Linked DNA regions of Homo sapiens. The protein of the gene in region 1 purifies or fractionates together with the protein of each later gene. This does not show direct contact. Each region holds a gene or a part of one and is shown in the gene's direction. Other genes may lie near its edges. The genes, in order: MLF1, FAM83H, PDE4DIP and CRYBG3.

What was found.
Region 2: the proteins of MLF1 (region 1) and FAM83H purify together in Homo sapiens (affinity purification with mass spectrometry; 4 studies listed by BioGRID and IntAct, with this or other methods). This does not show direct contact.
Region 3: the proteins of MLF1 (region 1) and PDE4DIP purify together in Homo sapiens (affinity purification with mass spectrometry; 3 studies listed by BioGRID and IntAct, with this or other methods). This does not show direct contact.
Region 4: the proteins of MLF1 (region 1) and CRYBG3 purify together in Homo sapiens (affinity purification with mass spectrometry; 3 studies listed by BioGRID and IntAct, with this or other methods). This does not show direct contact.

The regions. Positions count from the first base shown.
Region 1 is NC_000003.12:158,594,927-158,602,213, forward strand, and holds part of MLF1 (myeloid leukemia factor 1), read left to right. Parts: intron 1-1,935; coding exon 1,936-2,019; intron 2,020-3,153; coding exon 3,154-3,282; intron 3,283-5,087; coding exon 5,088-5,247; intron 5,248-7,287. UniProt on the Homo sapiens protein: Involved in lineage commitment of primary hemopoietic progenitors by restricting erythroid formation and enhancing myeloid formation.
Region 2 is NC_000008.11:143,723,706-143,730,992, reverse strand, and holds the end of FAM83H (protein FAM83H), read left to right. Parts: intron 1-395; 5' UTR 396-410; coding exon 411-857; intron 858-1,669; coding exon 1,670-1,834; intron 1,835-1,901; coding exon 1,902-2,026; intron 2,027-2,269; coding exon 2,270-5,072; 3' UTR 5,073-7,060; downstream 7,061-7,287. UniProt on the Homo sapiens protein: May play a major role in the structural organization and calcification of developing enamel. May play a role in keratin cytoskeleton disassembly by recruiting CSNK1A1 to keratin filaments. Thereby, it may regulate epithelial cell migration.
Region 3 is NC_000001.11:148,839,445-148,847,685, forward strand, and holds the start of PDE4DIP (myomegalin), read left to right. Parts: upstream 1-4,983; 5' UTR 4,984-5,330; coding exon 5,331-5,350; intron 5,351-8,241. UniProt on the Homo sapiens protein: Functions as an anchor sequestering components of the cAMP-dependent pathway to Golgi and/or centrosomes.
Region 4 is NC_000003.12:97,817,462-97,825,185, forward strand, and holds the start of CRYBG3 (very large A-kinase anchor protein), read left to right. Parts: upstream 1-4,549; 5' UTR 4,550-4,745; coding exon 4,746-4,894; intron 4,895-7,724.

The DNA.
Region 1 (7,287 bases):
AAACTGTTGGATATATGGATTTGAGCTGAGCTAGAGATAATTTATTCATTCATTCATTCCGCAAATATTTATTAAACCCTCTTAAGTGCCAGGAATTATTATATATGTATTGGGGATATTGTAGTAAATAGACAAAATCGCCCTGCCCTCAGAGATTATTTTTATAAAGTGGGAAGATAGACAATAAACAACAAAATAATTTCAGATAGTCACAGTACCCTGAAGATGAAACAGGGTAATGATACAGAGATGGGGGGAAGTGAAGGAGGGATTAGACAGGTGACCAGCGGTGGCCTTTCTCAGGTGGTGATACTTGAATCATGAGAAGGAACTAACTAGGTTTAAAGTCAGGAGGAAACATTTAAGGAAGAAAGAGGAGAATGTGTACAAAATTTTTGAAGGCCTTAAGGGCCCACTGAAGTCTCAACTACATTTTGTACCCCAACTTTTTGTCACTCCAGTGTGTTGGGTCACCCCAGAGCAAGTGCAGATACATCTTTTGATGGTTGATTTGAACATGAATTGAGAAGAGGGCAGAAATACCCAAATGTCTAATCTTTTCCTCTCTCTCTTTTTATCCTTCTTTGGGTTAACCTTTCCATATCTCATGAAATAAGAACGGATTCTCAATCTAGTGTTAAAGCAAATATTCAGAATATTCCCTGAATTGTGTTTGCCTCTCTGAAATGCAAAATTAATTCTACTTCAGTCCTTTTTTACCCAAATATATATTAGTATTTCCTAAATGTGCCTTTGTTGTTCCCTACAATATTAAGTGCAGGTTCTAAGGAGGAATTTGGTTTTCCCACCTATTTTACATTATTATATCTGTAAAAATCCAATAGCAATAGAACACAGAGACACAAATAGAACTTAGGAGGATTCAGAGCTCCGCTTGGTTGAACAGAGAAGTTCATTAAACCAAGCAACTCATTCTGTTTTATAACAGATGATTTACTGGCTAACACATTGGAATGTGTGCCTGACTTTTATTTTCTGGTGAGTCTTCCAGTGATAAAACCTAAAATCAGTGGTAGATTTTAAAACCTAAAATCAGTGGTAGATTTTCCTAGAGCAAAGTTTCTCAACCTCAGCCCTACTGTCATTTTGGGCAGGGTAATTCTTTTTGTTCTGGGAGACTGTCCTATCCATTGTAGGATGTTAAGCTGCATCCCTGACCTCCACCCACTAGATGCTAGTTATATGCTCTCTTCATCTGTGACAGCCAAAAATGAGTATAGTTATTGCCAGTGTCCACTGAGAGTCAAAATCAATCTTGGTTGAGAAACTACTGTTTAGAGGAATTCTTAACTGTTTTTCTGAAGACACATACCTCATGCTTCAAGGGTATAGCCTACTGACCCTTCAGTAGGCAGCAAATTGAAGGCCTATTAGTAAAGTGAATTGATTTCTGTCACCCAGATCCTACTATGATGAGAGGAAGGCTGGCTACTTACTCGAGGGACAACTTCTGTCAGCCATGTGGTACTGCTGGAGGTGACACTGGCATCTTATACGCAAATTTAGTTATTTGCATGGTGGAGTATTGAGAGATAAGGAAAATTATGAAAACTATCGTATGCTAGAGAATGTATCACTTAGTATTTAACATACACCAAATTATGTTTTGAAAAAGTGAGTAATGAGTGATTAGGTGTGTATGTGTTTTTATATATACATGCACATATATGTATTTATAATGTTACAGTTCCCTAATTATTTGTATGTTGGCTCTTTGGGATTTTGTGTATGCTTCAATTTTCTCCTTAACTAATCACTGTCATTATATCCTCTAAGTTATCTTTGTCTGGTTGATTACTGCATGAGATTTCACTAAATGAATTGGAAAAAAATGTTTTAGCTGTTTTGGAAGATGTATTTGCATCTTTTGTGTTGTTACCTACAGTTAATAACATACTTCCTGATATTCTGTAGCATACAGATGTCAGCTCTTTCCAGACAATGGACCAAATGGTGTCAAATATGAGAAACTATATGCAGAAATTAGAAAGAAACTTCGTAAGTACTAAAAACAAAGCATTGAGAACATTGTGTATACTTTGATATATTCTATTTCATAGTGGCTTTCAAACACTTTTTTAACCATAGTGGTTAAAAAAGATACCTTACATGATTAACCCAATAAGCAATATTTGTATACTTTATAAATATATTTGAAGCAAAAGTTTCATGAAAAAATGACTATACTATTTACAGTATATACAGTTATTTTCTAGTCTATTTCATGTATTAAAAATCCTGGTTACAACCCACTAAATTGAGTTCATAACCTCCAAGTTTGAAAAATAATGTTAACTTTGAAAATTTTTTAAAAATTGGAAAAAAAATAACCTCAAAAACATTGATTCTATTGAAAGTCACTATTGTAAATGAACATTTTATATGAATTTGCATAATTTTATTATTAATAACCTGTCTACTTAAAAGGATTTGTAGCATCTGAAGAGTTTCAGGGTTTTATAAACGACTCTGAAAACAGAAATTTTAGGAATAATGTTTAGGTATAGTTCCCTAATAGTCCAAATAAACTAGTACTATAATAATACTCTCTATATTAACATCAAAACCAGTCACTTGATTTGATCTGAAGAAGACCCATAACATTCTAGTCATCCAGTTTGAATTCTATGGATCATTTCAGAATGCCCAAATAATCTAGGGCATTATTGGTTTTAGTAATGTAGCAATCTGGTACCTACAGGAGGAGGTACGAAACTTGATGTATAACTAATTGATTGGCTTAATGTTGGCAAGATTACACACAAGGGTCAACCACTGACTATAGAAGTATCACAGGTTTGGGGGCATAGCATCTTTATTGAAATCTAAGCCACGAGCACCCAAAGACTTAAGGATCTCTGAGTGAGTCACTTATTAGTCTTTGTAACGAGAGTGGGATAATTGTACCTAAAATGGACGACCGTTAGGACCCTCTAGGGGTGACTTTTTTTGGGCGGAGGTAATTTTTCAAGTCACTTCTCACTTGAGAACCTGGGTGTGCCTTTGACTACACCATATTGGTAGTTTAGTATCCTTAGTAGAACTTACAGCTAGTGTTGTTACTTATTTGAACTCTCTGGCAATAATTATTTATATTTGACTCGACTGAATTTACAATTTGTTTACCTGTAGGGTCAACTTTCAGTGGATCCAAATGGACATTCATTTTGTTCTTCCTCAGTTATGACTTATTCCAAAATAGGAGATGAACCGCCAAAGGTTTTTCAGGCCTCAACTCAAACTCGTCGAGCTCCAGGAGGAGTAAGTTTTCTATAAGCATTCCTAAAGTTTTATAAAGTTAGGGGATGATAGACTGTCTAGATCAAATTTTAACTATTAAAATTTAATCTGGTACAAGATGGTGGGGGGACAGGAGGGAGGTGTGGGGGTTGGGGGTAAGGTAGTCCTCACTGTGGAAACCATTAAAGCTCAACTGTATTTACTTAGTTTGTGGCATTTTTTTTGTAGCCCCCCCACCCCCCCGTGAGGGTGCCTTTTTTCATGTAAATATCTATGGATGTTTATTACCTTTACATGTTGACAAGGTAAACAAAACACGAAAAGAAGCCTTTGTTTCATGAAATTAATGTCTATTTTTAAGTTTACATTTGAAGTGAATTAATTTTTTAACTCATGAAATATTTCAAGTGTACAGAAAGGATATAGAGAATAACATAATAAGTGCCCATATTCCTGCCACCCAGTTTAGTCATATCATAACATTTTTCTCTATTTGCTTCAAGTTGTCTCTTGCTTTGTTTTCTTTTTAAGCGAAAATGTACAGAGGCAGTTAAACCTTCTAATACATTCCTCTGAGGTCTATTTTCCCTTTCTCCCCTTCTCAGAGATTACCATTTTCCTGTATCTGGAGTTTATCATTTTCACGCATGTTTTTACAATTTTATTACTTCACGTTTCTGTCATTAAAAAAATGGATTATTTTCCAGATTTCCCAACATTACATAAAGGGTATCATATTGCATATGTCCTCTGCAACTTGTCTTTGCTGAGTAATATGCTTCTGAGATTTATTCAGCTTGATACATGTGGCCCTGGTTTCTTTAACTTCTATGTAGTATCCAAAATATGAATATATTATGATTAATACGCTTCTGAGATTTATTCAAGTTGATACATGTGGCCCTGGTTTCTTTAACTTCTATGTAATATCCAAAATATGAATGTACCATGATTTTTAAATCATTTTCTGTCAATAGATATGTAGGTGAGTCTAATCTTTCACTAATTCATCTTTATACATGGCTCCTTATACAGAGTCTAGGAGTGGTATTGCTGAGTTGTAGGGTATGTGTACTTTCCTCTTTACCTAGCGTTTCCAAGCTACTATCCCAGTGATTGAAATTGTTGGCTTCCAAAACTGTGGCTTGTGAGTTTCCATTTCTCTACTTCCTTGTTAGTACTTATAGTAAAAATTTAGGTTTACCAATCTAATGAATGTGAAGTAGTACATTTTTTAGTTCTTACATATAAAGATGAACCTTTTAATGATGCTTTTGCCATAGTTCTGCTAATTAATCTCAGACATTTTAATTTTAACTTTCTAAAAGTGACAAACTTAAATGTAAACAGAATATAATTGTAGATGTCCCACAGTAAATCATGTTAGTTGCTATCAGAAATATTCTTATAATACTTCCATAGAGTTGATAGTCGGGAATCATGAGATTCAAGCCAATCAATATGACTGATGAATAATTAGTTGCCCTTATTTGTAGGAATCCCACCATAAACTTCCTTCTATTACATTATCTAAGACAGTCTTGAAGGCATTAAACTATAATTGCTACTTTTGTTTTAATATTTGATTACAATTTGGAAAAAGGTTAAATTGTATGGGTTCTGTTTGTTGTAGACATTTTCATTTTAAGGAGTTCAGGAAATATCAGAGACTTATTACCACAGTTTTACCACAAGTTAATAGTGGAACTGAGCACACATTATTTTTAGAGCAATAGATCTATGGCCATATCTCTGTAGGTAAGCTGGCCCTGAGATATACATTCTATATATATTTAAATAATAATAAAATTTCTTTATTTTTACAGATAAAGGAAACCAGGAAAGCAATGAGAGATTCTGACAGTGGACTAGAAAAAATGGCTATTGGTCATCATATCCATGACCGAGCTCATGTCATTAAAAAGTCAAAGAACAAGAAGACTGGAGATGAAGAGGTCAACCAGGAGTTCATCAATATGAATGAAAGTAAGTTATCACAAAAAAATAATATTCTTTCTTATAAATTTAAAATAACAGCCGTACTTGATGAATTTTTTTTTAGAAACATGTCATAAGATGTAGTTTTTGAATAATGCATGTAGAGAATACCTTGTGAAAGTAATAGGATTGTGTTTTCATCCTTTCATAGGAGAGCTCTTTTTTATAGTGATTTTTGGCAATATGGGATATTACTTATTTTTATTTTATCCTTGGAAAGTGGAATCTTTTGAATTGTTATTTAGTAATATCATTAGGCAAAATGTGTCTTTAAATATTTTTTCTGATTATCAAGAAAGTACATTTGAAAAGTATAAAGACAAAAATAATCCATAATCCAAACTCAAAATACTAGTAATATTTTAATGTATTTCTTCCTAATCATTTTATATATATAAACACTTTTTTCTCAAATTATTATTCTACTTTTATATAGTTTATATTGTGCTTATTTTAATTTACCATTATAATTGTAAAGTTACTTATGATGCTATTTTTCAAAAGCATTTTAAGTGGTTACCTTAAAGTTTTATTGTAAATAAGCCATAATTTTTACTTAAATCATTCTGTACTGTTCAGTAGTACTTAGGCTTTTGTATAGACAAGATTTTAATTTCTGTTATATGTTAGATTACATGTATGTCTCTCTCTCTCAAGTAAATCTTTTCTTTTTCTGGATTTTGTATTTATTCTTCAATGCATTTACATCCTTCTAGTGTCCTAACTCTTCTCCCTGTAGTTTTTAATTATATTACAATTTATTAACAAATTTAATCATTAAATTTAAATTATTTTTATTAATTTTTAAATCAATATTAAGCTTTTATATTTAATTGTATTAATTCAATAATGAAATTATATTAAAATTTAGTTGGATTCATCTCCTAGTTTCAGAAAGTATTTTGAATAATGTTTTTCCATAATAGAGTGTTTAAATTTTAAATTGTTGTATTAAAAAAGAAATTCTGGCCGGGCACGGTGGCTCATGCCTGTAATCCCAGCACTTTGAGAGGCCGAGGCAGGTAGATCATGGGGTCATAAGTTCGAGACCAGCCTGGCCAACATGGTGAAACCCCATCTCTACTAAAAATACAAAAATCAGGGCCCGGCACAGTGACTCACGCCTGTAATCCTGGCACTTTGGGAGGCCAAGGCGGGCAGATCACGAGGTCAGGAGTTCAAGACCAGCCTGACCAACATGGTGAAACCCCGTCTCTACTAAAAATACAAAAATTAGCCGGGCATGGTGGTGCACGTGCCTGTAATCCCAGCTACTCGTGGGGCTGAAGCAGGAGAATCGCTTGAACCCAGGAGGCGGAGGTTGCAGTGAGCCAAGATCGAGCCCTTGCACTCCAGCCTGGGCGACAGAGCGAGACTCTGTCTCAAAAAAATAAATAAATAAAATAAATAAAAATACAAAAATCAGCTGGGCATGGTGGCCCGCGCCTGTAATCCCAGCTACTTGGGAGGCTGAGACAGGAGAATCTCTTGAACCCGGAAGGCAGAGGTTGCAGTGAGCCAAGATCACGCATTGCACTCCAGCCTGGGCAAAAGAGCAAGACTGTGTTGGGTGGAGGGGAGGAAGAAATTCTATTAACATTGGGGTTTGATAAAATTATTCTTTTTTTTTTTTTTTTTTTTGAGACGGAGTCTCGCTCTGTTGTCCAGGCTGGAGTGCAGTGGTGCAGTGGTGTGATCTCGGCTCACTGCAAGCTCCGCCTCCCAGGTTCACGCCATTCTCCTGCCACAGCCTCCTGAGTAGCTGGGACTACAGGTGCCCGCCACCATGCCTGGCTAATTTTTTCTATTTTTAGTAGAGACGTGGTTTCACCATGTTAGCCAGGATGGTCTTGATCTCCTGACCTTGTGATCCGCCCACCTCAGCCTCCCAAAGTGCCGGGATTACAGGCGTGAGCCACCACACCTGGCTGGGGTTTGATAAAATTATTCTTATGCAGTAAGATAGAAGCCATGATATTGTGACCTGTGTTTATTTGTAACCTCTGTAATTTTATCACATTTATATAT
Region 2 (7,287 bases), on another chromosome or scaffold:
TTCCCAAGTGCCTGGGACTATGTGTGCACGCCACCATGCCTGCCTAATGTTTAAAATTTTTTGTAGAGATGGGGTCTTGCTGTGTTGCCCAGGCTGGTTTCAAACTCCTGGCTTCAAGCAGTCCTCCTGCCTCAGCCTCCCAGAGAAAGGAGAGACAGGGCTGGGATACCTGTGCCCCAGCCCTCTGCCAGTGTCCCCTCAGCTAGGGGCATCCTAGGGTCTGGGTTGCTCTCTGTGAGCCTGGTTCGGCTGGTGCCCTGGAAGGCCTCCTGGGCATGGGCTAAACTCCAGCCTACCCAAGTCACTGACGGCCCTTTCCACAGTGTGTCCATGCTCGAGGGTAGGAGTGGTCCCAGTGCCCCCACCCCTAGTCATGTGTCTCCCTGCCCCTCCAGGCCCCTGGCCCCAACATGGCCCGTCGCTCTCAGAGCTCCTCGCAGGGGGACAACCCACTGGCACCCGGGTACCTGCCGCCTCACTACAAAGAGTACTACCGCCTGGCGGTGGATGCACTGGCCGAGGGTGGCTCGGAGGCCTACAGCCGCTTCCTCGCTACCGAGGGGGCACCAGACTTCCTGTGCCCTGAAGAGCTGGAACATGTGAGCCGACACCTTCGGCCTCCGCAGTATGTTACCCGAGAGCCACCTGAAGGCAGCCTTCTCGACGTGGACATGGATGGCTCCTCGGGTACATACTGGCCAGTGAACTCAGACCAGGCCGTGCCTGAGCTTGATTTGGGCTGGCCTCTGACCTTCGGCTTCCAGGGCACCGAGGTGACCACCTTGGTGCAGCCACCGCCCCCCGACAGCCCCAGTATCAAGGATGAGGCCCGCAGGATGATCCGTTCCGCCCAGCAGGTGCGCCATCTTGGGCTTGAGGGTAGTGGGGGAGGGGCCTGGGCTAGAGGCACGGGGGTGGAGGAGATGCATGAGCATGATCAGCTTGAGGGGTGAGCCTGAGCTCCAGCTGGAGTGGGGGTCCCTGGCAAAGATCTTCAGGGCTGCCAGGTCTCGGTCATCAGGGGCTGCAGGCTCTGCACAGGTCTGCTTGCCTGTGGTCATGGCCAGTGCCCAGAAACTCGGGGGCTCTGGGGATGGGTGGGCACCCCACCAGCCTGGGTTCATTGTTCAGATAATTACCTCTCATCCTGCCCGGTGGCCCTTGGCCAGCTGAGGGCTTCTAACCATCACCAAACAGCTAGCAGACGGCGGAAGGTGCTGTTAAACCATAGCGACTGAGGCATGAGGTCCAGACGCTAAAGGCTTGTGACTTTCTCCCCTGCCCAGGGCAACAACCCCGTCCCAGGGCAGAACTGGAGCCTGGCACTTGGCCCTGACAGCTGCCCTGGAATGGGGGCAGCTCAGCCGTCTGTAGGGTGGAGGGGATTGAGGGGCCCTTGCCGTGCCCCAACCTGGCCCACCCTCATCCAGGGTTCTCTGCCCTGCACCTGCCTCGGTTTCCCCCTTATGGCCAGCCGTTCCACACCTCTTCTGTTTGGTCCCTTCTTCCTGCCCATCTTCCCAGATGTGGCGCCAACTCCCTAGGATGGACTAGCTTGTTTCACAGTGGTCGTGGGTGATCCAGACACCTCCCGGGTGTGGAGGGGAGGCTGGACAATGGTGTGGGGACAGCAGGGGCCTCTCCTCTCCGTCCTGACCCGCCCCTGCAGGTGGTGGCCGTGGTGATGGACATGTTCACTGATGTGGACCTGCTCAGCGAAGTGCTGGAGGCCGCGGCCCGTCGGGTCCCAGTCTACATCCTGCTGGATGAGATGAACGCGCAGCACTTCCTGGACATGGCCGACAAGTGCCGTGTCAACCTGCAGCACGTGGATGTGAGTTCCCGGGAGTGGGAGATTGGGGAGGACCCGTGGGAGAGATCTGACTCCCCTCCCTCCCCAGTTCCTGCGCGTACGGACTGTGGCGGGCCCCACCTACTACTGCCGCACTGGGAAGTCCTTCAAGGGCCACGTCAAGGAGAAGTTCCTGCTGGTGGACTGTGCCGTGGTGATGAGTGGGAGCTACAGGTGCGCCCGCGGGGCTCCCTCACCCCCTTCTCTGGGGCCTCCTCCTGTAACCCCAGCACCCCCTTTCCACACCAGGGCCCTCCTCGCCAGGAGCCCTTGTCCTGTAGACCCCTGCACAGCCTAGCCGGGCCCAGGTCCTTGCAGACCTCACATCCCTGCGTCCTCCGCGCCCCACCCGCTGCCCACGGGGCTGCAGTGCCCTCGCTCCAGCTCGGTTTGACTCTGGCCCTGACCCCCCCACAGCTTCATGTGGTCCTTTGAGAAGATCCACCGCAGCCTGGCGCACGTGTTCCAAGGAGAGCTGGTCTCCAGCTTCGACGAGGAGTTCCGCATCCTCTTCGCGCAGTCCGAGCCGCTTGTGCCCTCGGCCGCGGCCCTGGCCCGCATGGACGCCTATGCCCTGGCTCCGTATGCCGGGGCCGGGCCTCTCGTGGGCGTCCCTGGGGTCGGGGCGCCAACCCCCTTCTCCTTCCCTAAACGAGCGCACCTCCTGTTCCCGCCACCCCGGGAAGAGGGCCTGGGCTTCCCCTCCTTCCTCGACCCGGACCGCCACTTCCTGTCGGCCTTCCGCCGGGAGGAGCCGCCGCGGATGCCGGGGGGCGCGCTGGAACCGCACGCGGGGCTGCGGCCGCTCTCGCGGCGCCTGGAGGCCGAGGCCGGGCCGGCTGGGGAGCTCGCGGGCGCGCGGGGCTTCTTCCAGGCGCGGCACCTGGAGATGGACGCCTTCAAGCGGCACAGCTTCGCGACCGAGGGCGCGGGCGCCGTGGAGAACTTCGCGGCCGCGCGGCAGGTGTCGCGGCAGACGTTCCTCAGCCACGGCGACGACTTCCGCTTCCAGACCAGCCACTTCCACCGTGACCAGCTCTACCAGCAGCAGTACCAGTGGGACCCGCAGCTCACGCCGGCGCGCCCGCAAGGCCTGTTCGAGAAGCTTCGCGGGGGCCGCGCGGGTTTCGCGGACCCGGATGACTTCACCCTGGGCGCCGGGCCCCGCTTCCCGGAGCTCGGACCCGACGGGCACCAGCGGCTGGACTACGTGCCGTCCAGCGCGTCCCGCGAGGTGCGCCACGGCTCGGACCCCGCCTTCGCGCCCGGACCCCGCGGCCTGGAGCCCAGCGGAGCCCCGCGCCCCAACCTGACCCAGCGCTTCCCATGCCAGGCCGCGGCGAGGCCGGGCCCAGACCCCGCTCCCGAGGCGGAGCCGGAGCGCAGGGGCGGGCCCGAGGGGCGGGCAGGGCTGCGGCGCTGGCGTTTGGCCTCCTACTTGAGCGGCTGCCACGGCGAGGATGGGGGCGACGACGGCCTACCGGCGCCCATGGAAGCGGAGGCTTACGAAGACGACGTGCTGGCTCCCGGGGGCCGGGCACCTGCCGGCGACCTGCTCCCCTCGGCCTTCCGCGTCCCAGCAGCCTTCCCCACCAAGGTCCCGGTGCCAGGCCCGGGCAGCGGCGGCAACGGCCCAGAGCGCGAGGGCCCGGAGGAGCCTGGCCTGGCCAAGCAGGACTCATTCCGCTCGCGCCTGAACCCCCTGGTCCAGCGCAGCTCCAGGCTGCGCTCCTCGCTCATCTTCAGCACGTCACAGGCCGAGGGCGCGGCCGGGGCTGCGGCGGCCACTGAGAAGGTGCAGCTGCTGCACAAGGAGCAGACGGTCAGCGAGACGCTGGGGCCCGGCGGAGAGGCCGTGCGCTCCGCGGCTTCCACCAAGGTGGCGGAGCTGCTGGAGAAGTACAAGGGCCCAGCCCGTGATCCCGGCGGCGGCGCGGGCGCCATCACCGTTGCCAGCCACAGCAAGGCCGTCGTGTCCCAGGCGTGGCGGGAAGAGGTGGCGGCCCCAGGTGCCGTGGGGGGCGAGCGCCGCAGCCTCGAGAGCTGCCTGCTGGACCTGCGCGACTCCTTTGCACAGCAGCTGCACCAGGAGGCGGAGCGGCAGCCGGGAGCCGCGTCGCTCACCGCGGCGCAGCTGCTCGACACACTGGGCCGGAGCGGCTCCGACCGCCTGCCTTCCCGCTTCCTCTCTGCCCAGAGCCACTCAACGTCCCCGCAAGGGCTGGACAGCCCTCTGCCGCTGGAAGGGTCCGGAGCGCACCAGGTGCTCCATAATGAGTCAAAAGGGAGCCCCACCTCGGCTTACCCTGAGCGGAAGGGGAGCCCCACGCCTGGGTTTTCCACTCGAAGAGGAAGTCCAACTACAGGATTTATCGAGCAGAAGGGGAGCCCCACCTCAGCCTACCCCGAGCGCAGGGGTAGTCCGGTGCCCCCCGTGCCGGAGCGCAGGAGCAGTCCGGTGCCCCCCGTGCCGGAGCGCAGGGGCAGCCTCACCCTTACCATCTCCGGGGAGTCCCCGAAGGCCGGGCCCGCGGAGGAGGGGCCGAGCGGCCCCATGGAAGTCCTGCGCAAAGGCTCCTTGCGTCTTAGGCAGCTGCTGAGCCCCAAGGGCGAGCGGCGCATGGAGGATGAGGGTGGCTTCCCAGTGCCGCAGGAGAACGGCCAACCCGAGAGCCCGCGGCGTCTGTCACTGGGCCAGGGTGACAGCACGGAGGCTGCCACAGAAGAGCGGGGTCCGCGGGCGCGCCTGTCCTCAGCCACGGCCAACGCCTTGTACAGCAGCAACCTTCGGGATGACACGAAGGCCATTCTGGAGCAGATCAGTGCCCACGGCCAGAAGCACCGTGCGGTCCCTGCCCCGAGCCCCGGCCCGACCCACAACAGCCCCGAGCTAGGCCGTCCACCGGCTGCTGGCGTCCTGGCCCCAGATATGTCCGACAAGGACAAGTGTTCAGCCATCTTCCGCTCGGACAGCTTGGGGACCCAGGGCCGGCTGAGCCGCACGCTGCCAGCCAGCGCGGAGGAGCGCGATCGGCTGCTGCGCCGCATGGAGAGCATGCGCAAGGAGAAGCGCGTGTACAGCCGCTTCGAGGTCTTCTGCAAGAAAGAGGAGGCCAGCAGCCCTGGGGCAGGGGAAGGCCCCGCGGAGGAGGGCACCAGGGACAGCAAGGTGGGCAAGTTCGTGCCCAAGATCCTGGGCACGTTCAAAAGCAAGAAGTGAGTCTTCTGGCCTGGCAACCCAGGCCAGGGTGCCCGCATCGCTGCCCCGGTCATCCAGAAGCCCCGCGGAACAGAGAGCCCTGCTCATCTGCTTGAGCAGCGGCTGTCAGGCCACGGCCGCTTGGGGCTTGGCTGAGTGCGCCAGACCTCGGCTCCACTGGAGGCTCACCTGGCAGCTGCCGTCTCTGCCCCCTGGCCTCCCCAACGCTGGGGCTGCACCCCTCGCCACCAGTGCCTTTCTCCCCTCAGCACCTTCATCTCTGCACCGTCAGCCTTGCGTGGCGCAGCGTCTGGCTCCGCCATCTCTTTGTGCCTCAGTCCCCCCCGCCCCCTTTATTTTTTTGAGACCTAGGGCTGGAGTGCAGTTGAGCGGTCTGGGCTCACTGCAACCTCTGCCTCCCGGGTTCCAGCGATTCTCCTGCCTCAGCCTCCTGAGTAGCTGGGATTACAGATGTATGCTACCACGCCCAGGTAGTTTTTGTATTTTTAGTAGAGACAGGGTTTCACTATGTTGGCCAGGCTGGTCTCCAACTCCTGGCCTCAAATGATCAGCCCGCTTCAGCCTCCCAAAGTGGGGGGATTACAGGCGTGAGCCTTGCACCCCGCTAAGTCCCCTATCCTCTTGCAAGGGTCTCGCCTCTGTGCCTCAATTCCTCATTCTCTGGGCCCTTCTCCTCCTCAGGGCCTCCTGTTCTCAGGGCCTCCCCCCTCCCCGCTCCCTCCCTCTCTCAAGGTCTCCTCCTTCCCTCCCCCCCCCCCCCCCCCGTCTCCCCCCTCCCCCGCCTGGGCTTCACTTCCTTTCCTACTTGGATTCTCCTGCTCGCTGCCTCCCAGCATCTTTTTTGGAGGCCCGTCTCTTGCTGTGGGGAAGACTGGGCTGGCTGCGGGCAGTTTGCAAGGGGTGGGTGGGGCAGGGGGGGGGGAGCTGGACCAGAAGATGCCCCTTGGAGTGGCAAGGAAGCTGGACAGGGCAGGCCTCTGGGGACGGGACACAGGGAAGCCCGAAGGGGCGCCTTGGCCAGGTCTGCCATCTCCTCCAGCGAGGCTCTGGCCAGCACTGGGTGAGAGTGGGGAGGGGGCATTGGCCTTTGCAGCACAGTAAAACATGGTCCAGACAACCTGTGGCCCCGGCCTCATGAGCACCCCCTGCACAGGCCCGGCCCAAGCCAGGCGCTAGAAGGGCTGGTTGTGGAGTGCTTATCCTTGACAGGTATGGGGCCAGGTGAGGGCAGGGGACAAGGTGCAGCTGAGGCCGAGCCCAACTAGGTCCTGGGCACCCCTGCAGGTGGGAGTGGTCCTTGTCCTCCTGGTATCCAGCAGACACCCCCCTCTCCCCACCAGCCCCATTCTCAGGTCCTTTCCTCTTTGTCACCAACACCAAGAATCTGTCCAGGGTTCTTGGCTTATCTTTTATCTCTTTTCACTCCTAGAGAGGAATTGCAATTGACTCAGAATGACACATTTTGGCACCACGTGTGTAGAAAGCCCCCACTGTTAGATGATAGCCTCGTGAAATTCATGTTTCTGTATTCTCCTATTTCTTTTCAAAAACTAATTTTTTTTTTAGTGTAATAAATCCTAAGAGGGAACTGATTTAAGAAACAAGGCCGCCAAACAAAGGCAGCAGTTCCGACTCCAGCAGCTGGGAAAGGAAGGAAAGTGACCCCACTTTCACTCCTGCACAGCCCACTGGTTACCAAAACCACCGTGCAAGTCGGGATGACAGCAGGGACTTCTGGCCAGGTGGGAAAGGTGCCTGGAAGCGGGATGCGCCTGTGCGTCTCTTGGCCATGATGTTCTTGTGGGCATGTTATTCTTGGTGCTGCCTGGGGTGTTGCTGAGCGGACAGGCTCTCCAGCTGGAGTCCATGGAGAGGCCAGAGGCTGGCGGCCCTGCCTGGGCCTTCGGAGCCTCCTGCCTGCACCCTCCACCTCTTCTAAACCATGATGTGGCACATTTTGGTGTTAATAAAACACAACACACAAAGTATTCTAGCATGTTCCCCAGTGTGTATAATCGCCCAGTTACATCCTGCAGCCTTTAACCACGTGGCCTCCCAGATTTCCCCTGTGGACCCACCACCCACCCCTGTGGGGGGCACTAAAGACCCCCCAGCTCCACTTCCAAGGCCCACCTTGGCCTCCCCAACTTCACGCTGCTCTCCTGTCCCTGTCCCCGATGCCCCCTGTGCAGGCACACTCCTGGGTGCCCACCTG
Region 3 (8,241 bases), on another chromosome or scaffold:
GTAAGTCTCTAAGGGTAGCCCATATTAAAGGGAGGAGAATTAGATTCCACCTCTCAATGGGAGAAGTAGCAAGTAATTTGTGGTCATCTTTAATCTACTACAGACACTGTATCCTTGATCTCAGAATGATGCCTCTTTGTCTGGAAAGGGCATTTGTTTTTTAAGCCCAAGGTTAGAGAGACAGACATGGAGCTGTGATGGATCAAGAAGACATCATGTTCTGACTAACCAGGTGATCACAGGGATCACTGAAGTGACAGATGTTGCAGACATATTGTCCTCCTATCTAAGTCCCAGCCAATGTTACGTGTCAAAATTAGGGAAGCAGTACGCAAAATGGTTAGGCAGGCCATTCTGAAACAAAACTGATTGGTTTCAAATCTCAGCTTTGCCATCAATCAGCTTTGTGAATGTGGGCAGTATAATTTACCTCCCTGTGCTCCACATTAGTCATTTGTAAAGTGGGCATTAACTAGAGCCTACCTCAAAAGACTGCTGCGAGGATGAAAAGAGTTAGTATACACACAATTGTTAGAGGAGGATCTGGCAAAAATATATTAGACATAGCTATTTTTATTATTGATGTATAGATTATGCAGTAAACTATATCAACATCAATAATCCTTTTTACCCAGAAACAAGTTGGAGAGAAGAAAAGGAAAATGAATTTTAAAAACTGAATGAAAGGTAAAAGTATCATTGGAATATTTGGAGCTGACTGTAAAGACTGTGACACCTTCCGATTTTTTGTCCCTTATCATCAATTCAGGTATTCCCTGAAGCACAATCAGTTGACCAAACTAAGAGCAGTGCCCTCAGGAAAGAATAAAATGAATAGTTTAATTTATCAACATCATTTACCCAGGTTATTTGAGTTCTTTTTATTTATTTTTTTTTTTGAGACGGAATCTCGCTGTCGCCCAGGTTGGAGTGCAGTGGCGCGATCTCGGCTCGCTGCAGGCTCCGCCTCCCAGGTTCACGCCATTCTCCTGCCTCAACCTCCCGTGTAGTTGGGACTATAGGCGCCCGCCACCTCGCCCGGCTAATTTTTTGTATTTTTAGTAGAGACGGGGTTTCACCGTGTTAGCCAGGATGGTCTCGATCTGCTGACCTCGTGATCCGCCCGCCTCGGCCTCCCAAAGTGCTGGGATTACAGGCGTGAGCCACCGCGCCCGGCCGGTTATTTGAGTTCTAAGCCAGAAAACTGAGAGCAGACACACACATAACGATACTTGGTTGCAAAATGGAAATAAAAAGCAATGTGTTAGGATAGGCTAGATTATGCTCCAGTAATAAATAATCTCCAAATCTCAGTAACTTAATACAACAAAAATGAATTTCTTGCTCATTCTACATGTTCAATTAGGGTTAGCAGGAAGGCTCTGACCATCACAGTAACTCAGGGACTTAGGTTGATGAAAGCTTCATCTTATTGATCTTCAAGGATCAATAAAACAGCGGAAACTGAAAAGGGCCAATTATGTACTAGCTCTTAAAAATGTCTGCGTTCTTCCCAGAAGTGACCACATGAGACTTCCTCTCACGTTTCAGCCAACGAAACAAGTTACATTTCACTGTTCAAAAGTCATAGCTAAGTTAAAATGGGATGAGGAAGAATAAAGTTACCATGTATCTACAAGGAGAAAAGCTTAACAAAAAGCAAGAAAGCAGCACATACAGTGACTGGTGGATTGCATTATTGTTCCACAAATATTACTCTCCCCTCCTGCACTCTGTGGGCAGACTGTACTTTTCTGCACCAATGACTTTGGACTTGGCCATGTTACTTACTTTGGTGAACGGAAAATGGCAGAAGCGAGACTGTGCCAGTTCTGAGCAGAGACCAGTCATCATGAGTCTCTGCCAACTCTCTTGCACTCCTGCACTCTGCCATGAAAATGACAGACTTAAACCAATCCATACCTAAACTATAGATCCTTGAGGGAGAAATGGATGTGTGTTGTATAATACTGAGATTGGGGAGTTCTTTGTTGAGCAGCATTGTTTCAGCAAAAAGATGACTAATACAGTGACTCAACACAAGGATTTCATGAGACTGGCTACTACACATATGGTTTCCAAGAAAGGATATGAAATAAGACCTTACTAGCTAGTATTCTAAGAAACGTAAAGCAAAATGAGATGGTGTTACATTATTAGTATACTAGCTAGATATAGAACTAAAATATAACTATCCAATTATTTACAAATTAAATAAGAAAAAAAATAAAAGGAGAATTTCTAGTGCTTTTGAGGCTAAGATAATAAAATTAGAAAGTCCTTTTATCCCAGGAAAATCGCCTTTAGTCCATTCCTGCTGCTATAGCAAAATAGCTTAGACTGGGTAATTTGTAAATAATAGAAATTTATTTCTCACAGTTCTGAAGGCTGGACCAAGATCAAGGTGCTGGCAGATTCAGTGTCTGGAAGAGCTTGCTCTCTGCTCCCAAGATGGCTCCTTGTTGCCACAGATGCTGTGTCCTCACATGGCTGGAGGGACAGAGGACAAAAGGGACCAGAGCAATCCTTTCAACCTCTTTTTTAAGAGCACTAATCCCATTCATGAGAGTGGAGTGTTCATGCCTTATCACTTCCTAAGACATATTCCTAAAAGGCCCCACCCTGTAGTACTATAACACTCGGTGTTAAGTACCAATGTATGAATTTTGAAGGCATACATACATTCAACCATAGCATAATTCAAAAAAGGAGAATGATAAAGGCAGAAAGCTCTTCATTAAGGCATTATTTATAACAGTCTAATATCAGAAACAGCATAACTATGCAATAGTAGAATATTTTAAGTAATCTATGGTCCTACTAATATTATAAAATATTGTACACTCATTAGAATAATAACTATGAACTTTCCCTAAAAACATGGACAAATATTTACTAAGTGAAAGAAGGAGAATATAAACATATACCTAAGCTGTAATCGTAATTATGTAAATAGATATTTAATATATATAGATAATGACTAAAGGGAATTTGGAGAAATTTAAACATTTGTGCTGTAGCAGTGGTTATATGGGTGAATATTTTTCTTCTGAAATCTAACGCAAAAAAATTGTTCTTTTGACAATAAGTATAATTTTTAAAACAACAAGGAAATTTCTCTTCTCAAGAATATACCCATGTGTGTAAGAAAGAGTTGGTGTTTGGATTAAAAGATGCATTTTTTAAAGAGTGGGAAAAAAATGCAACACATTTTTAATATTGAAGATCCCTGGGTATTCTGAGTAATCTATATAACTTTCTGTATTTTTCAAATGTTTTTACAATGAATGTGCTATAAACTTTTGAAAAAAGTTATTTTAAAAATACATGAACGTATTTTCTAGCGTCACTTCTGAGACCCCACAGCTCACCTAGTTAGTGCTATCATTTCTTGAATCCAGTGAGCTGCCTGTAGACAGAGTTCCTCTCCACAACTCGGTAGCCCATAATTTGATTTGAGACAAAGCTAAATATAGCCCCAACTTTGGTATGAAGGATGGGAATCTGACTCTCCCTGCCTTTTCTTCCCCCCCATCAGAGGCAACAGGATATTCTTTTCAAGACAGGTGGCCTGTGAGCCTTGTCTAAGATCAAACTGGACCTTGAAATTTTTCCTGGTAACATTTTGAGCTCTGGAGCAGTGTGGTCCTACCAATAAATCAAGTGTTGGAGGAGTCTAGACTAGGGGCTTTTTAGACAGTTCTGCTAAACCTTCAAATGTTTTGTTATCCTCCCCTCCCCACCCCTACTTTGTACTAGTATGTAGGGGAACCAATCCAAGAGATAACAGACAGATGACAGGTTCCCCCAAGAACACAGACTCCCCACAGTCTCACCAATACCCAGGCATGCCAGGTTCTTCCTGAGTTAAATGCCTAGGAGGCCTGAAAGAATAAATTCATCCTGGAGAAGTCTTGTGGGTCGTAGCTTTAGAAATTCAGGGAACATATCTCTGGGGCCACCCAATGGAGAACACAGCCTGTATCAGAACCTTAGCAGAGACTTTGGGCCTTTTGGGGTCTCAAATTTATCATCTCTGAAACAAGTACAACGAAATTAACATTGCCACATGTGGGCACTATAAAGCCTTTTTCAGATAAAAAAAAAGGTCAGTGATAGTGCTAATAATAACAGTGATTATGTCATTTAATAAAACGGTCTTATTTGAAAGCTAAAAAGGAGCTTCAGGGTGGCAAGCACTCTAATTATAGTATGTCTGCCTTGTTTAAATCTTGATACATAAGTACATGGTACAGGGCCTGAGGCAATGCCATCTCCAAAGAGGCCTTTTCCATGATCTTAAAACAGTCACAAGGGAGTGTCGAGGTCCTGATGGCTACTGTCTTGAGGCTTTTCTAGTGTTCTGGGAGTCAGGAAGCTTCTCCCTCCTTGAAGCTATTGGTAGAGCCCAGTTGCTGGCGAAACTGAAAAACGAGGAGGTAGAATACCCTAAAACAGGAGATGTCTGGGATACAGGCAGCTAATAGGGCTGTAAGGTTTTGTTGGGATGCTTCCCTTCCTGATGAAGGGTCCTGTCCCTGGATTAATGGTGAAACTGGCATGTCACATCTCTAGGAAGACAACATCGTGTTCCATGACCACGTAGGGTATACATCTGCATTCAGCCGGGATTGCTCCTAAACCTTCCTAGACTCCATCTCTGGCTCTGGGGTTACCTGTGGGTGGGGCGATGCAGACACACAAGAAAACCTCCTCTACAAATTCTTCCTGTAGTTGGTTGATTGTATTCTAAGACCTTCGTTGGGATGGGCGAGGGACGGGGCTTGGTACCGCGTCCTCTAAGCTCTCTGCCCTCTGCCGTCATCATTCATCTGAGCCAGCGAGAGAGGGGTCGGGGAGACGCGAGGGTGGTTCAGGGGGCGTGTAACCTGGGCCGATTCTGCCCCAGCACACTGGTTGTCGGGAGCCCCGCCTCCGCTCGCGGTTGACAGCTCAGCTGGTGCCGAGCAACTCGTGCCAGCCAGTCGTGTCTCAGCCTGGAGAGTGCGCGCACCGCGGCCCGGGCAGCCGCTGGCTCCAGCTCACGAAACAGCCCCGGGCGCCGCGCCGCTCTGAGTCCAGCCTCCTACTGAGAACAGTCCCTCCCTTGTGCGGGTCGCACGGCTAGCCGCAGGTTCGGCCACGTCAAATCCATTTTCTAAAAAAGCAGGGAGCAGAGCTCTCTCTTCGCCGCCGACGCAGAAAGGAGCTGGGGAGGAAAAAGCTGCTGCCTTTTGCGCTGGAGATTCGTGGGCAAGGCTTCTCATTTTCCCAGGCTGCTTCCCCTCCCGGGTGAGGAGCGTCCTGAGACTAAGGAAAGAGCCTGGAAAATGGAGCAGACCTGGACGAGGTAGGTGGGCTGTTTCCTTCTCGCCGCGCTCCAGACTTGGTGGTCCTCCTCCCTCCCCTCCCCCAGCGCCCTTAGGGAGAGAGAGGTCGCCCCTCACCACCAGGGTCCCGTGACAGCTTCCCTTTTCTGTAGCCTCGCCCTGCCTGGTTCCCAGCCCACCTCTCTTGGTCATTTTCACATGTTCTGTTTTACGGGGTTTCCCTTGCTTAATGACTCTCCCCTCCACCGAGTCCTGATGTTAAAAATACCCAGGGAGGCCGCCTGGAACTTTCTGTAGAAATGGTTCTCTGTCGTTTCCTTGTTCGTGTGGCTAGAGGGATTCCAGTAGGTCTTCTTGAGAGATATGTTTGATGTCAGATGCTTTGAACAATATCAGGTTTATTCTCACCCTGCCACGTTTTCCTTCTCAGCCTCATCTGTCACTACTCACACAAAGGCAAAGGGACTGAGTGAGCAGAGCCCAGCAGCACTCATCTCCACAACCTCCAGTTGGAGCCCACTTGGGGGAGGAATGGAGAAGGAAAGAGATCAGGGCACCACACTGCTCAGGCTTTATTGAGGCCAGGCAACAGTTGGCTTTTAGGTCAGATTTTGGAGATGGCCTGTGAAACTGCGTTTTCTTCCAGTCCTTCCCCCAGACACACTTTAAAATGAAGCCCCATTCAAGGAAAGGGTAAGGATAAGAGACCATGTATTGAGACAAAGACTTCGTTTCTGTTTTTTAGTGGGTGGGAGGGTAGGGAGACTATTCCAGCGGTGTCTCTATAACAGATACGCTTCCATCTGTGGGATTTAGCTTTGGAGAATTGGGGTGGGGCCAAATGAGCGCTCTGACTCCTGAGAGAGTGAAGACGGTACAAACACAGAAGGTAAATTTGGGGCTTATGCAAAAGACTTGGGTGCTTTTAGTTGATTGCTAAGCTCAACAGGAGTGAATGGTATAATGTGAATATTAAAGAAGGAGCAAATTGAAGCTTAGGGTTTGTTGACAGAAGAAGTAGGCTGTCTAGATTCTGTCTAGATCAAAAGTGATGATTTTACTTTTGGCTCCTTTCTGCTCCTCTTGGGCCTCTCCGAGAGGGCTGTGCTTAGTTCTGGGCATCATTAGATAAAATAAGTACAATCAAGAGACAGGAGGGAACTCAAAGCCATGCCTTGAGGGATGGCCAAAGGAAGGACCTGGGACTCCTGAGTCCGGAGAAATGACGACTGGGAGTGGGGAGGATGTGGTAGCTTCCTTCAAATTTCCGAAGAGCTATTGGTGGTAGAGGGATTGAATCACATTAGAATCTCTTAGGAGGACAGAACAACCGATGCAAGCGAGTTGTTGGGAGGCGAGTTATGGCTCAGTGTAAAGAAAAAGCTTTCTGGCCAGGTGCAGTGGCTCATGCCTGTAATCCCAGCACTTTGGGAGGCTGAGGCAGGCGGATCACCTGAGGTCGGGAGTTCGAGACCAGCCTGACCAACATGGAGAAACCCCATCTCTACTAAAATACAAAATTAGCCGGGCGTGGTCGCACGTGCCTGTAATCCCAGCTACTCCGGAGGCTGAGGCAGGAGAATCGCTTGAACCCGGGAGGAGAAGTTTGTGGTGAGCCGAGATCAAGCCATTGCACTCCAGCCTGGGCAACAAAAGCGAAACTCCGCCTCAAAAAAAAAAAAAAAAAAAAAAAAAAAAAAGACCAGGCGAGGTGGCTCACGCCTGTAATTGCAGTACTTTGGGAGGCTGAGGGGGGCGGATTACGAGGTCAGGAGATTGAGACCATCCTGGCTAACACAGTGAAGCCCCGTCTCTACTAAAAACACAAAAAAAATTAGCCGGGCGTGGTGGCGGGCGCCTGTAGTACCAGCTACTTGGGAGGCTGAGGTAGGAGAATGGCGTGAACCCGGGAAGCGGAGCTTGCAGTGAGCCGAGATCGCGCCACTGCACTCCAGCCTGGGCGACAGAGCGAGACTCCGTCTCAAAAAAAAATTAAAAAAAAGCTTTCTAACAAGTTAGCTGCCTGGGCAGTATGGGCAGTAAAGAGATTGTTGACCCTGGAGTTACTCAGGCAAAGGCTAGATGACCACTTGATGGTGATGGGAGTGAGTGTATCAGGGCCTTTTGCTCTCTGCCAGTGTTTTTCACACTTGAAGAAAAAAGTATTATTTATTAAGTTTTAAAAATTTTATATTTACATGTAACAATTTCAGACAAATTCAGAAATGATTTGGAAAAATCGCAAATTATATATTTACAGTCCAATTAATTTGACAAACTGAGTATACTCATGGGATGGGCATTCAGATAGAGAAAGGGAACATTACCAGCATCCCTGAAGCCCTCCTGATGACTTCAAGGATAATCATTATCCTAATTTTTAACACCATAGAATAATTTTGCCTAGTTTTGAACTTTATGTAAATGAAATTATACACCATGTACTCTTTCGTACGTGGCTCCTTTCACTCAATCTTTTGCTTTTGGAGTTCTATACTGTTATATGGTACTGTAGTCCATTTATTCTTGCTTTTAAATAGGCTTCTATAGTGTATAAATATATCAAATTTATTTGTCCATTCTATTCTTAATAGGCACTTGGGCAATTTCCAGTTTGGAGCTATTATAAACAGTGTTGCTATGAACATTTCTGTACAGGTCTTTTGATGAACATATGTACACATTTCTGTTGAGTAAATAAGTAGAAGTATGATTTCTGCGTAATAGGAAATGCATGTTCAGATTTAGTAAATACTGCCAGATTGTTTTTTTTTAAACAGATTACAAAAGAGATTTCTAAAGCGGGTATCCAGGCCAGGCGCGGTGGCTCACGCCTGTAATCCCAGCACTTTGGGAGGCCGAGGCGGGCGGATCACGGGGTCAGGAGATCGAGATAGTCCTGGCTAACACG
Region 4 (7,724 bases), about 61 Mb from region 1:
TAGATAAAAGACACATCACACTGAATTGGTGTGAACAACTATTTTGGAACACATGTTATAATCAGTGTTTGTCAAAGACATGCTACCCCTATTTATACATTTTTAAAAGTACGTTTCAATATTAGCAAATTTTGTGCTGTTTGAAAGCTATATATTTAATTTTTAATGTTAATGTTATATTTTTGTAAAGGACTAATTTCTCTTTGAAGTATCATCATATCAAAGGGAGAAAAGTGTAAATGTAGTTTAGGTCAGACTAACACATTTTACTTAATTTAAGCATTAAAAGATGTGTGTTCGAAAGATCTCAATCTCCACATGTTCCGCAAACAAAAACCAGACAAACAATACAATAAAACATCATGCATCTCATAGAAGTTGGAATAACCAATTACTTAAAAATTTTACCATCTGTTCTCATTGAAGCAGCAAGACAGGCATTTCCCCATGTTACAAACCATGATAATTAGAAAGTAACAATGAGAAATGCTAACATCATTTTTCCCCTTTTTTATTTGCTGTGGGAGTTCTTAATGAAAATTTGAGCATATAAACAAAGGAAAAGAGAAGATATTCCCCCCACCCCACCTCCTAATTGAGTGCTTATATTCAGTAATAGCTTTTTGCTGCCCTGGGCCGCATGACACTGCCTCATTTGGCCACGCACAGCTATTATTCTAGGAGGCAGCTAGTGAAGTGCCCCAATCCATCTGCTTGCTTTTTCATGGGCTGGTGCTTTCCTTGATGTTGACAGCTGTCTTAATATTCCTGGGCCACCTGCCACACAGTAAATACTGTGCTCTAAGATATATACAGAAGCTTATTCCCTGGTGGACTTTTCAGAACAAAAACGCTTAGCATTACTAAACTACTCTTGCAGTTTAAATGCTTCAAGGATCAACACTTTCATTCTATTCTCATACCTTTGAGAATGGTACTTACGTTGTGGGAATGGCAATTCAGTTACAGTGTGATGAACTTCAGGATTTCTCATATATCACACAAGTTATTGAATTACAGTATTATAGGTGGAAATCAGGTGCTAAAAGGAGGCAGAGAAGAAGAGAGCATATTAACAGTTATCTCCTCTAGTGAGCCTTCCAGGAACCCTTCAGATTAAGTTGGGGATCCGTCCTATGTTTCCCATCTTACCCCATTTGCTCATCTTGCCCAATTAAACTTGCTCCTTGATGTTAAGCATTTGGTCTTATCTATCACCGTATCTCTATGTCTAAGAATGAGCATGTATCTGACACATAGTATGCACTAGAGGACATATCCAGGTTTTGTGGGATCTGAAGTTTTTACAATTTGGAGGGTCCTCTTTAAAGAAAAAGGATTTAAAAGAAAATTAGATATAAAAATGAATATATTGAATGAAAACATAAACCATGCAAATTACTAATTTTAAAAGGTTGACTAGAAAAACAATTTGTTTTCTTACTAAATGCCTTGCACAATCACTTTTTTTCCTATATTTTTGGCAGTGTACTCTTCAATAGCCTTTCATATGACAATAATTTAGTAATATTATTTTCCATAATAATGAAAAGATAATGCAATCTTTCCTCTAGTTCTGTTTTTCTTATTGATAGAAAGGCTGTGTAAACATGCAGTACTACACACACACACACAAAGCTTGTGGTACTGCTACAGGTTTGTACCCTACAAACAAGAATTCTGATAAATTCTATTTTACATGGTTTACATCAACAAGAAAAAATGTTTTGTGTTTACAGTTATAAAAATTATTTTGGGTGGCTGAGACGGGTGGATTACCTGAGGTCAGGAGTTCGAGACCAGCCTGACCAATATGGTCAAACCCCGTCTCTACTGAAAATACAAAAATTAGCTGGGCATGGTGGTGGGCGCCTGTAGTCCCAGCCACTCTGGAGGCTGAGACAGGAGAATTGCTTGAACCCAGGAGGCGGAGGTTTCAGTGAGTTGAAATTGCACCACTGCACCCCAGCCAAGGTGACAGCGCCAGACTCTGTCTCAAAAAAAAAATTAAATATACTGCATTATTGAATATATTATTGCTATGAGAGAAATTACATCAATCGGAGGCAATCCTTCCTGTTGAAACTTTGTCTTCTGATGCCTGGAATAATTTTCCACATGACACCTGATGCTGCTTTACCTTTCAAATCTTGTCTCACCTCTATTACCCACATATTTTCAGTGTCAGAGACCACAGAATATATCTCCTCTGGCTCTGCATCTTGGGTGTAATACTTGGTGAGCTGCGCTACAAACAAATTGGAATTTAAGAAATAACTATACTTTGGAGAGGCTGGAAACCACATAAATATATTCCACTAAGTCCAAACTAAATATATTCCCAACTGAAATTCCCTAGCAGATTCCCAAATGCTCTTGATAACTCTAAGTGGAAAAGAAAATCTAAGTGGACATCTAAGTGGAAAAAAAAAGAGATTGTGGTCTTAATCACATTAAAACATTTACTTTTGTAAATTTGATAAAACTGGCCATGGATCCCATTGCTGAGTTCACACTGGAAGAGACTGTGCCAGCAGGGAGCCAAGAAACTTGAGCCTCATCGGCTTCACTGTAGATGTGCTTCTACTGCAGGCACTCACTAAACGTCGGGGAATAACTGGATCAGTGAATTAATGACACTGTGCTAAATTAGTATCTCTAAGATCCTTACAGCTCTAAAATTTGACATTTTTACAGGCTTCCTAATGCAATCTTAGAATTTAGTATTTAGAAATTTGTTCATATGAGTTCAGGTTATAACAATGTAGGACATATAGAAAACTAATAAGTGCTCAGAAAGCAAATGAAGGAAAATTCAATGGTCATTGTTTTATGACTTTAAGCTATTTTGTCATAGACGCAATTTGTCTTAGTGTAAACATGGCATTATTTGTATTTACCATTCACTTAAGTGCTTTGCTGTGCTACCGAGTGGAGATCAGAGTATTGTTAGATATATTATTAGTTAAAACCATAATTCATTAATTAAATCCTATTGACTCCCCCCCATTTTTATTCCAAGAAAAACTTCCTGAACGAAGTACCCTCTGGGTAGGCACTGGGGCCTGGTTTGATCACAGAACAAGTCAGGGACAAATGTGATAGTCATTCAATAATACGTTGGGAAGACAAATTATCATTTGGGCCTTTTAGCTGGAAGAAACAGTTTGCTTTATTACTCTCTTTGGGCTTTTTGGTAAGTGGGTCTTCAGTGGAGATTCTCTTATAAAATAATAAAGCTAGAATTGGGAACTTGTCTTATTCTAGTCTATTATCTTAGTCTTTTTCTATTTTCTCAGACTAGGCTCACAGAGAAATAGGAAAAATTTACCAAAGAGTAAAAAAGGATTAATCTTGAGGGATAGACTGAGATGAACCCGATTGATGGAAATCGGGCTGACTGAACTTTAATGGGTTAAATCCTGCCAGAACAAATGAGAATGAGTGTCTTGGCTCTATTGCAGTTAGTAGGAGCTGGAGGGCTTCTGGGAGGCAGCGTGGGGAGGCAGGGAGGCTCAATAGCCTCCAGCAGGTGCTGAAAGGACTTGGGGCTTATAGGTATGCAATCTACTTATGAGCAACCTTCTCCTCCAGCACCCGAAAGCCAGAGGGGAGATTACTCCAAGGCTCCCCTCTGCTGTGGACATTTCATTTTTATCTCATTTACTTGTATACATTTTTTAATGAACAAAAGCCATATCACTTCCTTGACGTCTACTCCAGGGGCAGCTTGCCTTCAAACAAAAACAAAACACTTGGGGTGAATGGGCCTCTCAGTATCTCCTGTACTAGCTGCTATAGGGTATGAAAAACCAAGAAAAATCCATACCACTGTACTTAGACTTAAAACAAGTCTTAAGCACCCTTTGGTTCCCAGATTTCAGTGGCATCTGTGTAACGACTGCAAAATATGTTGCAGCATTGACAAGCTTGAAATCATACTTTTTGATCAGTGCCGTTTTTGAAAGAGTTCGCAGGGAAGTATGGCGTGTGAAAAGTCTGAAGCACAGCGCGGTTAGGAAAAGTCACACCACAGAAAGCCAGCAGAACGCGCCGGGAGGTGGTGACCGCCTGACAGGTACCCCCTTCTCCCTCCCGCCGCCCGGTTCTGTGCTAACGCGACTTTCGCCCTCAGGGTTGGAGCTGTATTTGCGGTAGCTGTTTCTTAGCTCCCAGCAAGTCCGGGGCGCCCCGGTACTGCAGTTTGCCAAGTGTTTTCACAAACCTTAGTTCATAAACCTCTTTCAAAAGCCCGAAGAAAACCGTTTCTGTGCTCTGACTGTAGAATAGAAAACACAACGGTCACAGAAAGTAATTGAAGGCAAAGCCCAACAGGCTGCAGCCTGAACTTGTTTGAGCCGTAAGCCCGAGCCTAGCGTCGCACGCTGGGCGACTCCCCTCAGGCTCTCAGGCCGGCGCCTTCGGGGGACCACGTAGCGCCCCAGCGGTGGCGGCTGCGCCCGGCTCAGGGCGGTGCCGCGGCCACTGGCTCCTCCTCGGGGTGGGGCGGGCCGCGCCGGGCGAGGGCGGGAGGAGGAGCAGCCGCAGCGGCGTGAGGAGCTGCCGCGCGAGGAGCGCGTCGCGTCCGCACTTCTCCTGCCCGAGAGAGACTGAGCCGCGCTGGCAGCTCGCGTCGAGTCGGTCTGCCCTAGCCGCATCCCGCGGCGCCCGGTCGGGCTCCGGGCACCAGGCAACACCTAGGCCGTTCCCTTCAGACAGCCCCGGGCCAGCGGCCCCCTCGGGAAATGTCCAGCGGCCGCAGAAGGGGCAGCGCCCCCTGGCACAGCTTCTCCCGGTTCTTCGCTCCCCGAAGTCCTTCCCGGGACAAGGAAGAGGAAGAGGAGGAGAGGCCGGGGACGAGCCCGCCTCCAGCTCCAGGCCGGTCCGCTGCCAGGTGGGAGTCGAGGAGGGGGTCGCGGGGGGGCCCTGCACATATTCGCGGGATGAAGGCTCCCGGCCTGACCGCCGGCAGCGGGCCGCTCTTGGGCCAGGCTGCAGTTCGCTCGCCACTTTCTGTTCTCCTTCCTCCATTGCTAAAGTTTCCTCCTCCTTGCCCCGTTCCCGTGCCGCACTACTCGCCTCTCCTCTGCAGGTTAAATCGGGGTGAAGTTCTTGCCCGGCAGCCGGACGCATATCCCCCGATCCCCGCCTGGCTCCGCGCTCTTCCTTTCCCACTTTCCCCTGCCCGGACGTGATTGGGTTCCCGTTCCACACACGCTCTACTCTCCAAGTTCTGTGGCAAAAGCGATTTCCCCGGCGTCCCGCCTGCAGTAATGGGAAACACTTGTGAGCCGAGCGGAGCCGTCGGCCAGGGGAATTGGGGGCGCGATCCCAGCACCACTTGTGTGGGAGGAGATCGGGGCAAAAGTGGAAAAGGTAAAGCTTTGGGGCGTCACCCCCTCAGCTGGTATTTTTGCCATCTTATTTAAATTTTCTCAAAATGATTTTTAAAAGGAATTGTGATAATGCGTTCCCAAGACTTTCACCAAAATGGACTGGACATGTAAATGACGCCACCCTTCTTTATTTCTCATCTCTCCTAGAAACATCTGCCTCAAGTTCCCAAACAGATTCTGGAAATCAGGTTTCCAGCTGTCTTGGTTTCAGTAATCAAAATGTACCCTTTCTCTGTAATATTTTTATCTTTCCTTCACTTTCCCATGTTCAAAAATCAAAAAATTTTAGACATGCCTCATTTAAATGCCTGTTTCTGAGTCTTTTCATCCCCCCGAAGAAAGAGGGGTTAAGTAAAACGCAGCTCGCTTTCTTAAACTTATGAGAGGCTTACACTGTCTTCTCCCGAGATTGCACTAGAATGACCATTGTCATTGGAAGGACACACTCCAGAAAACCGTGTTTACTTCGGACTCAAGATTTCCTGGTGGGCTTAAAAAAAATGGATAGGAAACAGAACTGAGAGTGAGCCAATTCCATTAGTATTCAGATTTTGTGATGTGATTTTAGTCGTTTGTGTGTTCCTCGGTTTCCCCGCTTGTGAAACATTTTCATTATGACCGTCTGTTAATAACATGCCACATGTTTCCAAGAAAGCTCCTACGATAATTGAGTGGTTATTCTCCTGGGACGTTTCAGCTATTATTGCTCTGACTGTTGAGAGTTTAAAATTCAAAGTTACACAGAAGTTAAAAATAGTTTTTAAGTCTGACAGATCTCATCCAGGGTGTCAGCTAGTTCTGTTGGTGTGGGCAGACAGCCTGTGGTGCCTGCCACCGCCGTAACAGCACTAACAGTCTTGGATAATATGAACGCAGTCTGCAAGGAAATCCCAAGTAGGCGCAGCAAAAGTTGGGAACTTGAGAGTCAGTGTTAGAAAGGAGTAAGCAGGTCAAATTCAGGCTCATGTCAGTAATGGCCTGAAATCCTGCTTGCCTCTCTGCCCTATTTTGGCTTTTTAAGGCACTTCTCAATTCTAATTTCTTTACTGACTGGAGCTGACCCCTCCAGCAACTAGTTCCTTGTTCACCTACCACTTCTCTATTCTCATCATCTCCAGATTGGCACAAATTATGGCTTTTCAACGATGAAGATTTTAATTGTGCTTATATCAACGCTAATTTTGTTCTCATCTTTTTTGGAACTTGCCAGATGTTAGGGGGATAGCAGATGACCCTTTATGTGGGTGTTTTACTGTTTTAAATGAGCTTAAATCTTTCATTTCAAGGGCATAAACAAACACAAAGCCTTTATTGAAAGTTTAATAAAACAAATGGAACCGCTTTATAGTACTGAATGTCCCAGTAACACAACACCCTGATGTTAACAAGATTGGAAACAGAATTGCAATTTGTCACTGTGATCTTATTTCAAAATGAAAGAGTATTTTGGCTATTTCTCTTTGTGGGCATAAAAACTTTTATCATTATGAGAGCTGGGTATACCTTCTGTAGTGATGATTTTAGATGAAGAGGAGTACAAAATTAAAAAATAAACTAAAACATAATTATGAGACCCGTAAAAGTCGAATTTACAACATCCTGAAACTGTTTTTTTGCCTGCTCACAAAATGCGTACTGGGACAAACACCAGGTCTTTGGGGAGCTGCCATGCCTTGATACAGGTCTTCCAATATTTTACTGTTTTGAACCATAGGAAAATCTTTGTTTTTATGGTGTGCTGTGATTTATATGGGCTTCAGTTGGTGACAACACTTCATTATGTATTCTTTCTTTGTCACAATTAAAGAAGGCCTATTAGCATCAACACTATTGTATATCCCAACTTAGGCGTAGGCACTCAAATTGCTTGATTGTACTCATATTAGGTGGTTGACCATTTCCAGGAAATGCTTATATTAATTTATTTTAGATGATAAAAAGGAAAACTGCAATTGAAGTTTTCATAGGAAACTCAAAAACTCCCAGAGTTCTGTGGATCCCAGTTTGAGAATCACTGGTGCAGTGTTAAGCCCAGTTTATAAGCATACAAGGAATGGACTCATTAGAAGTGATAGGGGAGACCAGGAAGTGCTTCCTGGTAGGGATGATTTTAACTGGGTCTTCAAGGAATTGGTGATGTTTCTATACAAAGAGAACTTAGGAAGAGAGAGAATAGGGAACAGGTATTCCGGGAAAAGGCATTCCAGACTGAGCAAAGGCCTGCAAGGGGTTTATGATCTGTTAGGGGATATATACATTAATGGGACAGAGTGAAAGGAGCAGTAAGAAATTTAGGTTGGAACTGGGTTATAAAGGTCTCTAGACAAA